Linked DNA regions of Homo sapiens. The protein of the gene in region 1 interacts with the protein of each later gene in a pairwise test. Each region holds a gene or a part of one and is shown in the gene's direction. Other genes may lie near its edges.

Region 1 (3,895 bases):
ATATTTTTTTTTTTTGAGATGGAGTCTTGCTCTGTTGCCCAGGCCGGAGTACAATGGCGAGGTCTCAGCTCACTGCAGCCTCTGCCTTCTGAGCTCAAGCAATTCTCCTGCCTCAGCCTCCCAAGTAGCTGGGATTACAGGTGTGTGCCACCATGCCCAGTTATTTTTGTATTTTTAGTAGAGACGGGGTTTCACCATGTTGGCCAGGCTGGTCTCAAACTCCTGACCTCAAGTGATCTGCCTGCCTCAGCCTCCCAAAGTGCTGGGATTACAGGCGTGAGCCACCACGCCTGGCCTGCAAACAGACCCTTAAAAGTCATCTGTTCCTACTCTTGTTATTTAAGTTGCTTTGATACTCCACCCCTGAAGAACTTTTATGGGGCACTTACCATGTGTCAAGCATTGTGGCGAGTGCTTATAGAGAAGGTGGGACTTTCTGAGGGAGCCCACAAAAAAGCATTCTTTTCTTGCCCTCATTCTGAATAAATTGAGGAATAAAAAATAGGAGCTACAGATGGAGACCCCAAGTCTGGCCAGTTCTATTACTGATAAAGACAGGAGGGTGAGAGCTAGGTGGACCCAGCCAGGAAGCAGACCTGGGCAGTTGTAGCCTCTATCTCCTTCCCCCTCTGCCCTTGAGTCTAGAAGGAAGCCCGCTCCCAGGAGAAAAATAGCGCCCAGGCTACACATGCCTAGTTTATTCTTCCCAAATCAACCAGTTGCATAAATCACTCCTCTATCTTCCTTGGGGTGGAAAGTGGATGGGAGTTATAATTTGAGTTCTCTTTTGTCTTAGTCCATTGAAGCTGCTATTACAAAATACCATAAACTGGGTGGCTTATAAACAGCAGAAATGAGGCCGGGTGCGGTGGCTCATGCCTATAATTCCAGCACTTTGGGAGGCCAAGGCAGGTGGATCACCTGAGATCAGTAGTTCAAGACTAGCCTGACCAACATGGTGAAACCCTGTCTCTACTAAAAATACAAAAAATTAGCTGGGGGTGGTGGCGGGCACCTGTAATCCCAGCTACTCAGGAGGCTGAGGCAGGAGAATCGCTTGAACCCAGGAGGCGGAGGTTGCCGTGAGCTGAGATCACGCCATTGCATTTCAGCCTGGGCAACAAGAGTGAAACTCCATCTCAAAATGAAATAAAATAACAGAAATGTATTTCTTAACAGTTCTGGAGGTTGGGTGGGCAGTCCCAGATCAGGACACTGACAGATTCAGTGTCTGATGGGGGCCCACTTTCTGGTGTTACCTGCTGGCTGTGTTCTCACATGGTGGAAGGAACATGGCAACTTTCTGGGGCCTTGTTTTTTAATTTAAAAAAAAAAAATATTTTCCTGGCCCTTGCCTGCTGAAGGAACCTCTTTTATAATGGTACTTAAAAATTTTTTTTTTTGAGATGGGGGTCTCACTCTGTCACCCACGCTGAGTGCAGTATCACAATCTCAGCTCACTGCAACCTCTGCCTCCCTGGCTTAAGCGATCCTCCCACCTCAGCCTCCTGAGTACGTGTGACCATAGGCCCATGGCACAAAGCCCAGCTAATTTTTTGTATTTTTAGTAGAAATGTGGTTTCACCATGTTGCATAGGCTGGTCTCGAACTTCTGAACTCAAGTGATCTGCCTGCCTTGGCCTCCCAAAGTGCTGGGATTCTAGGTATGAGCCACCCTGCTCGGCCTATAATGGCACTTTCCTATCCCATTGATGAGGCTCTACTCTCATGACCTAATCATCTCCCAAAGGCCCTAAGGCCTCCTGATACCATCACCTTTGGGGTTAGGTTTTAACATATACATTTTGGGGGGACACAGACATTTTAGACCATAGCACCTCCATTGAAAGGAAACATTTCTGACACCTGGCTATCTCAAAGGGCCCTTTCAGTTCCCCTGCAGGCTGCATTCCCACATCACCAACAAGAGCAGCGACACTCACTCAGAGGTTAAATAACTTGTCCAGAGTCACAGCAGTAATGAATGACAGAGCTGGGGCTTGAATCCAGGCGTCCTCCTAGAGCCTGGATTCTGTGTAGTGAGTGAAAGCTGACTCCTGGGAGACTTCTGCGTGGTCCTGGTTCTCTCTCCAGACTGCACTGCGCAAGTTTCTCTTCCTGATGGTCCCTAGGGTATTACAAAGACAGTGGCCCTGCCTGTCAGGTGTTTTTATTACCAGATGAGGTCATGGCCTCAGGAACCCTGTGGGAAGCTGAGTTCAGAGTCTTTGAGCAGGCTTTAGGGAGGTTCCAGCTTCCCACCACCAAGCCCCAGGTGGATTCTTACAGACTCTAGCCTCAGGGTGGGGGGTCTGGAAGATGAGGTTGCGGGGTGCGATATTCTGCCCAATTCGCCCCTCCTTGCTCAATCTGTTTCTGCAGGTATTGCTGACTACAGACCCAAGGATGGAGAAACCATTGAGCTGAGGCTGGTTAGCTGGTAGCCCCTGAGCTCCCTCATCCCAGCAGCCTCGCACACTCCCTAGGCTTCTACCCTCCCTCCTGATGTCCCTGGAACAGGAACTCGCCTGACCCTGCTGCCACCTCCTGTGCACTTTGAGCAATGCCCCCTGGGATCACCCCAGCCACAAGCCCTTCGAGGGCCCTATACCATGGCCCACCTTGGAGCAGAGAGCCAAGCATCTTCCCTGGGAAGTCTTTCTGGCCAAGTCTGGCCAGCCTGGCCCTGCAGGTCTCCCATGAAGGCCACCCCATGGTCTGATGGGCATGAAGCATCTCAGACTCCTTGGCAAAAAACGGAGTCCGCAGGCCGCAGGTGTTGTGAAGACCACTCGTTCTGTGGTTGGGGTCCTGCAAGAAGGCCTCCTCAGCCCGGGGGCTATGGCCCTGACCCCAGCTCTCCACTCTGCTGTTAGAGTGGCAGCTCCGAGCTGGTTGTGGCACAGTAGCTGGGGAGACCTCAGCAGGGCTGCTCAGTGCCTGCCTCTGACAAAATTAAAGCATTGATGGCCTGTGGACCTGCTACAGTGGCCTGGTGCCTCATACTCCTCAGGTGCAGGGGCAGGGACAAGAGAAGGGGGAAGTAACCCCATCAGGGAGGAGTGGAGGGTGCCTGAGCCGCCATGTGGGCATTGGGGGAGTGATGGGAATGCCAGCAGTGATGACATTGACTACTGACTGAGCACCCACTACTATGACTGAGCACTCACTCGCTAGATACTATCTTGAACTGCTCTGTGAGGTTGTTGATATTTTCATTTTTATCTGTGCTTTACAAATCAGGAAACTGGGAGGCCGGGCATGGTGGCTCACGCCTGTAATCCCAGCACTTTAGGAGGCCAAGGCAGGTGGATCACAAGGTCAGGAGTTTGAGATCAGCCTGGCCAACATGGTGAAACTCCATCTTTACTAAAAATACAAAAAATTAGCCAGGCATGGTGTTGCATGCCTGCATGCCTGTAATCCCAGTTACTTGGGAAGCTGAGGCAGGAGAATTGCTTGAACCCTGGAGGCGGAGGTTGTAGTGAGCCGAGATCACGCCATTGCACTCCAGCTTGGGCAAGAAGAGAAACACTCTCAAAAAAAAAAAAAAATCAGGAAACTGGTGCTCAAAAAGGAAAAGTGACTCACCAAGGTCACAGACTAGGCAGTGATGCTGGGGGAACCTGGCTCAGGGGACACAGACCTGGCCTGGGGCAGCCTTGCAGCTCCTCCACTAAAATACTGAAAATGAGGGGCTTCGATGATGGTTATAATCGTATGGCAGAGCCCCAACTCAACTGGAGCCCTGGGACCCAGAAGCTAGGGTCTCACTCCCTGCTTTTCCACAAGGCACCATTAGGGCATCACCCCAGGCCTCGGCAGCCACGACGCAGGGATCCTGCCTCTCATTGGTTGGGGGCTTAGGGGCTCTGGGCTGCCCTCTTGAAGAGGG
Region 2 (7,297 bases), on another chromosome or scaffold:
CATACCCATGCACACACACCGCCACCCCCACTACAGTCACCATCCCACACCACAGTGAAATGTTTATTAACTGTTAATGAAGCTACATTGACATTTGGGTCATAGTCACCCAAAGTCCATAGTTACATTAGGGCTTACTCTTGGCCAGTCACCCGAAGTCCATAGTTACATTAGGGCTCCCTGTTGGCCAGTCACCTGAAGTCCATAGTTACATTAGGGCTCACTCTTGGCTAGTCACCCAGAGTCCATAGTTACATTAGGGCTCACTCTTGGCCAGTCACCCAAAGTCCATAGTTACATTAGGGCTCACTCTTGGCCTTGAACAGTCATTGGGTTTTAACAAATGTGTAAGGACATGATTTTGCTTTACAGCGTCATATGGAGTTGTTCCACTGCCCTGAAAATCCTCTGTGCTCCACCCACTCATTCCTTCCTGCCTGCTGACCCCTGGCAACCACTGATCTTTTATTCTTTCTATAGTCTTGCCCTTTCCAGAATGTTACATATTGGGAATCATACAGTATATAGGATTTTCAGATTTGCTTCCTTTGCTTAGCAATATACGTCCCAGCTTCCTCCATGTCTTTTCATGGCTTCATAAAGCATTTCTTTTTAGCACTAAATAATATTCCATTGTCAGAATGTATCTGTTCAGCCCCTCACCTACACAAGGACATCTTAGCTGATTCTAAATTTTCGCAGTTAGCAGTAAAGCTGCTAAAACATCCATGTACAGGTTTTAGTGTGGACGTAAGTTTTCAACTCCTTTTGGTAAATCAACAAGGTTGCAATTGCTTGATCATATGGTAAGAGTATGTTTAGCTTTGTAAGAAACCGCCAGGCTGTCTTCTGAAGTGCCTGTGCCATTTTGCATTCCCACCTGCAGTGAATGGGAGCTCCTGTTGCTCCACATCCTCCTCAGCATATGCTGGTGTTAGTGCTCTGGGTTTTGGCCATTCTAATAGGTGAGGTCCAGGTTACTTCTTATTTCTTTCATGGATTGTGTCTTTGGTGTTGTATCTAAAAAGTCATTGCCAAACTCAAGGTCCCTTAGATTCTCTCCTGTGTTATCTTCTAGGAGTTTCATAGTTTTGCATTTTACATTTAGGTCTGTGTTCCATTTTTGGGTCAGTTTTTTTTAAAAGAGGGTAAAGTCTGTGTCCAGCTTCCTTTTATTGCATATGGATGTGCAGTTGTTCCAGCATCATTTGTTGAAAACACTCTTTTCTCCACCTGTTTTGGTAGGTGCATGTTTTTGGGATTTTATATTTATGTGTAACTTACATAAAATTTGAGACATCAATATTATAATCAATTTCTAGGATACTCATTTCTTTTGTACTTCCATGAAAAGTTTAATGTTCAGGTTGAGTCTTTACATTGCTACTACTAAGGTAACATAACCCTGTTTGAAAAAACCAAAATCTCAATGTCTCATCTGTGACAGGATCGTCTTAGCTGTATTACTGTATTTTTCAATATTACTTTCTTTTCTTTTTAAGACAGAGTCTCACCCAGTCTGTTGCTCAGGCTGGAGTAGAGTGGTGCCATTGGCTTACTACAACCTCTGCCTCCTGGGTTCAAGCCATTCTCCTGCCTCAGCCTCCCTAGTAGCTGGGACTGCAGGCGCCCACCACGACGACGCCTGGCTAAATTTTTTTGTATTTTTTAGTAGAGACAGGGTTTCACCATGTTGGCCAGGCTGGTCTTGAACTCCTGACCTCAAGAGATCCGCCCACCTCGGCCTCCCAAAGTGCTGGGATTATAGGCGTGAGCCACCGCGCCCGGTGGTGTTTTCTCTATCATAAACATTAACTATTCTTGGTGATCTCACACAAGTTCTTCAGAAGGCATATCAGCTTTGAAAGTAACACTTCAAATATACCATCTCATGTGTAACAGTACTTTTTTTGTTCCTTTTTTAATTCATCATTTTTTGTTTTTCCAAATTTTAGACATTCTTTTTCTCCTTTCACCTAAAAAGCAGCCTTTCTATCTGCTGGTTGACTCAGGGATTGATTTTGTATTTCTGGCCGTTGGTGAACAGATCCCTGCATTTCTGTCATGATGTGGTTGCTCCTGCCCAGCAGTCAGCAAACTGGTCCATACGCTGAAAATGGTTTTTACATTTTTTAAATATTGCTTAAAAAAGAGAAGAGGAATATGCAGGAGAAATAATACATAGCCCACAAATCCTAAAATATGTATCATCTTGTCAACCCCAGTTTGCCAATCCCAAATCACTTTTCCTTGTTTTCTGCTTTTGATGTATATATTATTGGGTTTGAGCTGCCTTATTATGCTGTATGGTTGGTAGGAAATGGCGGCGGAGGAGAAATGGTTTTCTGAATATGAGGCATATTTATAGGAAGATTGAAACATTTTGTGATCTTTACCTTTTGACACATTTCTTAAAATGTTGCTATGAAAACTGAAAATCTGTCAATTATTAATAATTGTCAGAAGTCTTTAAAAATTGATAAAACTATCCTTTATAAATTGCTGTATACTTTTATATACTTGAATGTGTGTTTGGTAAATCTTTAAAGTTTGGTAATTCACATAATTGATTATGAGCCAAATGACTCCAATGTCCTACAAGTCCTTGAGGAGTTAGTGTATATATATAACATATATATATATAATATACACTTGGATGGGATTATTTGAAGCTTGTCTTTCTAGGACTGGAGATTTTAACCTGAGATCTGCGGGCTTGGAAAGTTGGTGAACTTCCTAAAATAGTCGGGGGGTAAAGAGGGGAGGAGCAGCTATGGGAAGAGGGTTCATATTTTTCAGTAATTTTTTTTTTCTTTTTTTACATTTTTGTTGTTAAAAAAAAAAAAATTACTATTATTTTGAGACCAGATCTCACTTTGTTGCCCAGGCTGGGGTGCTGTGGTGCAATGATGGCTCACCACAGCCTCGAACTTCCCAGACTCAAGCGATCCTCCCACTTCAGTCCCCCGAGTAGCTGGGACTACAGGCACATGCCACCATGCCAAGCTGATTTTAAAATTTTTCTGTAGAGATGAAGTCTCACTGTGTTGCCCAGGCTGTTCTCGAACTCCTGGCATCAAGCAGCTTTCCTTCCCCGGCTTCCCAAAGTGCTGGAATTACAGGCATGAACCACCACACCCAGCCCGTTTTTTTCAAGAGTTTATGACCCCAAATGGTTAATTACCACTGATCTAGGAGAAAAAATACCTGTCTGTCTTTTTGGTCTGGCTGTTTTTAGAGGGAAGTAAATGAAATATAATGGTGACATTTAAATATCCGAAGGCTGTACAGGTAAATGTAGCTGTAATATTATGTACCTGAATATGGGCGAGAATTTTGTGGGTCACACTTGCCACACTTCACGTGTCCACACTTTTCAGAGTATGTGCTGTTCTGTTTTCCAGATGAGCAGAACTACATTCTCCGAGATGCTGAGGCAGAAGTACTTTTCTCTTTCAGCTTGGAAGAATCCTTAAAACGGGCACACGTTTCTCCACTCTTTAAGGTACACTTTAAGGGAAAAGTAAATCAGTCCAAGTAAGCATAACACACGGACCTGCTCAAGGGAACTACCAGGTGATTTGGTGGGAAGTGCGCCTCCAGGGGAGCTGGGCTCACCCTGCATCCCATTTACCTCTTGGCTTCCTTCTTGGACATTGCCACTGGAGGTCTTCCTCCTGTGAACCACAGCACATCTCTAGAGAACTTTTCTTTACTATAATGTTTAAAAATAAGTACACAAATTTAATAAATACATCTATGAGAAATAAGTTATTCAAAGAATAGGTTTTTGAGTAATTGGTTAAGAGGCATGTTCATTTTTCTGCTTTTAATAAATCTTTAGAGGACATCGCTTACTTCGTACTATTGTCAGTAAATGTATATTCAGCTGGAGAAGATACTTGGGAAAATATTCAGTGTGTGCATAGATATAATTCAGTACTAAAAGATTTTTAAATGTTAGATAAGTGTTAGAACAGCTAGGAATTTTTTTTGTACCAAAGAACTAAGTAAATCAATAAAGATAATCGGTTCTTTAACCTTCTTAAGGAGTCAACAGGAATTAGAAATTATTTGCAGTTTCAGACAGAATAGTATTTTGTGGTATCCTCAGGAGCAATCTTGTTAGATAATTAAATCTTAAGCATCAATATCATTTCCTGCTCTGAGTTCAAATAATATGGAGAAAATAAAGAAAAGGGATATAAGCCAGGCAGCATGCTATGCCAGAGGCTGTTGCTGGGCAGATAAGTGTGGTGAAATATAATGCTGATTTAAAATTGTATAGAAATTGTGAAAAATATTTGTAATATTCTTGCTTATTCACAAAACACTTTGTTTTAGGGACTTAAGTTCTGGTTACTTTAAATCATCTTCAGGCATACTTAACATGTGAAAATGCTTACATTCCAAATTTACATAGCTGGATTCCTCTTCCACTTCAGATTGAGTGCTAGTAGGAGAATAGTACCTTCATAATGTCATAAAATTTGAAATTTTGTCAAAAATCTCAGGGCAGAATCTATGAGAATTATGTACTCTAAAAATTAAAGCATTTTAAGAACATAATACATATATTTTCATTTAATTTTAGGCAAAATATTTTTACATCACACCTGGAATCTGCCCAAGTCTTTCCACTATGAAGGCAATCGTAGAGTGTGCAGGAGGAAAGGTGTTATCCAAGCAGCCATCTTTCCGGAAGCTCATGGAGCACAAGCAGAACTCGGTGGGTAGAGTGGAGTCCGCCAGCGAGTCCGTCATTGCCCTGTATCACATTCAGCGTTCGGTCACTGAGAAACTCATTTTCTTTTCCTTAGAGTTTGTCGGAAATAATTTTAATATCCTGTGAAAATGACCTTCATTTATGCCGAGAATATTTTGCCAGAGGCATAGGTACGTTTCCCCGCTTACCTGTGTGAGTATGTGTGCACGCACAGCAGTGGATCTCTAACTAAAGTGTCTGTTTCCACCCTGTTCAGATGTTCACAATGCAGAGTTCGTTCTGACTGGAGTGCTCACTCAAACGCTGGACTATGAATCATATCCTTTCCAAAAGAGAATTAAAAAGTAGACGGGTTAGATATGAAATGGATTTCCCAGGTTAATAAGGCAGTACCTTTCCTGTTTTGCAAGCCATTTTTCCTTTCTTTGCTATTGTGATTTATGCAGTGAACAATTCTTTTCTCTTCAGAATATTCATTTGAGTTGCTAGTAAAAATATTCTCTTAACTTACTGAGAGTTCAGTTTTAATAGGTGATGTTAATTAGAAAGGATCTATACTGTCTAGTTTATGGAGGTATTAAAGAATTTGACAATTAGATAAAATAGAAAATAATTGCAAAAATAAATATATGTTTCTTTTTATCAGCTCACCTTTGAGTTTGTAGTTTTCCAAATGAAATTTAGTTCGTATATAGTCTTTGTACTCAGGAACTTTGGGATGGGAGATAAATTACTACTAAATGGAAGCGGCAGAATGAATACTTCATCAACATGTCAGGAAAATGCAAAGGTCAGTCTTTAGAATATTGACACCTAGGCTTTTTTCTATTTCAGACATTCAGGAAAAAATAAAGCTCATCATCTGTTATTTGAATTCCTTATTAAAAATCTCTGAATTATTATTTTAATGTAGGAACAGCCTATCAGTGAAGCAAAACATGCCTTACAGGTCCTTATGGGAAAATTCTGTTTCCACTTCCGTTTCCCATTGCAGAGCACCTTCTCTCAGGGCTGTTCTCAGGACTTCTCCCTGGGCCTCCTGCAATGAGGCTGGAGCTCCTCCTCTCTGTGAGGGTGGGAGCCTCTGCCACCTCTGACCAGTGTCAACCTCAGTGGACCTTTCCTTAAGCAGGGGAATTTTGTGTTTGGGATAGGACTGCTTCAGTAAGGCGCAGAGGTCAGAATGATACCCATCCTTGCCGAGTTTTTTTTTCTTCGTGTGTGCCTGTTTCATCCAGGTAATTACATTTAAGTATATTTACATTTAAATACACTGACATTCATCCAGTTAATTACATTTATCAAACATTTTCCTCTTAACGCTAAAGAGCTTATGGTTATAATAGTAGACAGAAGACCTTGATATCACTGAGAGAAAAGCACTTTTAAGAAGTAAAATTTGGCCGGACGTGGTGGCTCATGCCTATAATCCCAGCACGGGAGGCCAAGACAGGTGGATCACCTGAGATCAGGAGTTCGAGACCAGCCTGGCCAACATGGTGAAACCCTGGCTCTACTAAAAATAGAAAAAATTAGCTGGCCATGGTGGCGGGTACCTGTAATCACAGCTACTTGGTGAGGCAGGAGAATCACTTGAACCTGGGAGGCAGGGGTTGCAGTGAGCCAATATCGCGCCATTGCACTACAGCCTGGGCAACAAGAGCGAAACTCTGTCTTTAAAAAAAAAAAAAAAAAAAAAGAAGTAAAATTTGCCTCAGTCCCAGAATCCAATGTCATGTTTAGCCATAAATAAATAGCCTGTCTAGTTGGAATGAGGCTTGGTGCAGAAACGCTCTTACCATTCATACCAGAGCTTGCTGTATTCCATACCGCCATCTATTAGAAAATTATTGTAGGAGCTACTGATAGGAATGATAAGAGGCCTGTTAAATTTTTACAGATATGCTATAAGCATTTGGTTTTTATACAACATGTACTCTTGCATTTTTTCCAGACTTTTTCCTAACATTCATGTTTGTATTTGTGAAAGCCTGTTCTACACTACATTTACTTTCAGAAGAAATTGCTTTAAAAGTCATACAGGAGACTTATGAGTATTACCTTGGGGGCCTTTTTTCATATCCATAGCTTGATGAATTTTGCCCAAAGTGGACGGTTTAGAATTGCAGAGGTCACTACCTGCTCCTGCAGGTATAAGTAGGAGTCAGCTATTTGTGGTGGGGCTTTGGGGATGTCAGCTCTTGGGGGTTGTGTGTTGTACATGTTAATTTAAAGGACATTTCAGCTATTGCTGGGCCTCAGTTCTGGCCGCATGGTGGATACCTTGCGGAGCTGGCACAGGTGCTGATGTCCCCGGGCTGAGTGAGCCTGTGTGTCGGGGCTGAGGGCCTCCTGTGATGTGGGTATGCAGCAGAGCGACTGGTTTGAATGGGTAAGAAAGAGGCTGTAGCATTCCTTCAAGGGTGTCTCTGAAACTGGATGATGAATGTTGGAACCCTTGGTTTCATGTTTTTCTTTTGCCTTGTGTTTGAAAGTCGTTTTCCTCAACAAGCCTACATATAAGTTTAACTGATGGCGTCTAGGCTGCCGTGCATGTCGACTCCTGCGGTG

Evidence for each region.
Region 2: the proteins of TCN2 (region 1) and PAXIP1 interact in a two-hybrid assay, tested with the Homo sapiens proteins (one study listed by BioGRID and IntAct).

The regions. Positions count from the first base shown.
Region 1 is NC_000022.11:30,624,078-30,627,972, forward strand, and holds the end of TCN2 (transcobalamin-2 isoform 1 precursor), read left to right. Parts: intron 1-2,382; coding exon 2,383-2,444; 3' UTR 2,445-3,194; downstream 3,195-3,895. UniProt on the Homo sapiens protein: Primary vitamin B12-binding and transport protein. Delivers cobalamin to cells.
Region 2 is NC_000007.14:154,944,111-154,951,407, reverse strand, and holds part of PAXIP1 (PAX-interacting protein 1), read left to right. Parts: intron 1-1,917; exon of another isoform or gene 1,918-2,110; intron 2,111-3,317; exon of another isoform or gene 3,318-3,404; coding exon 3,405-3,505; exon of another isoform or gene 3,506-3,510; intron 3,511-3,634; exon of another isoform or gene 3,635-3,715; intron 3,716-4,555; exon of another isoform or gene 4,556-4,594; coding exon 4,595-4,729; exon of another isoform or gene 4,730-4,815; intron 4,816-4,820; coding exon 4,821-4,896; intron 4,897-4,914; exon of another isoform or gene 4,915-4,982; coding exon 4,983-5,043; exon of another isoform or gene 5,044-5,048; intron 5,049-6,787; exon of another isoform or gene 6,788-7,243; coding exon 7,244-7,259; 3' UTR 7,260-7,297.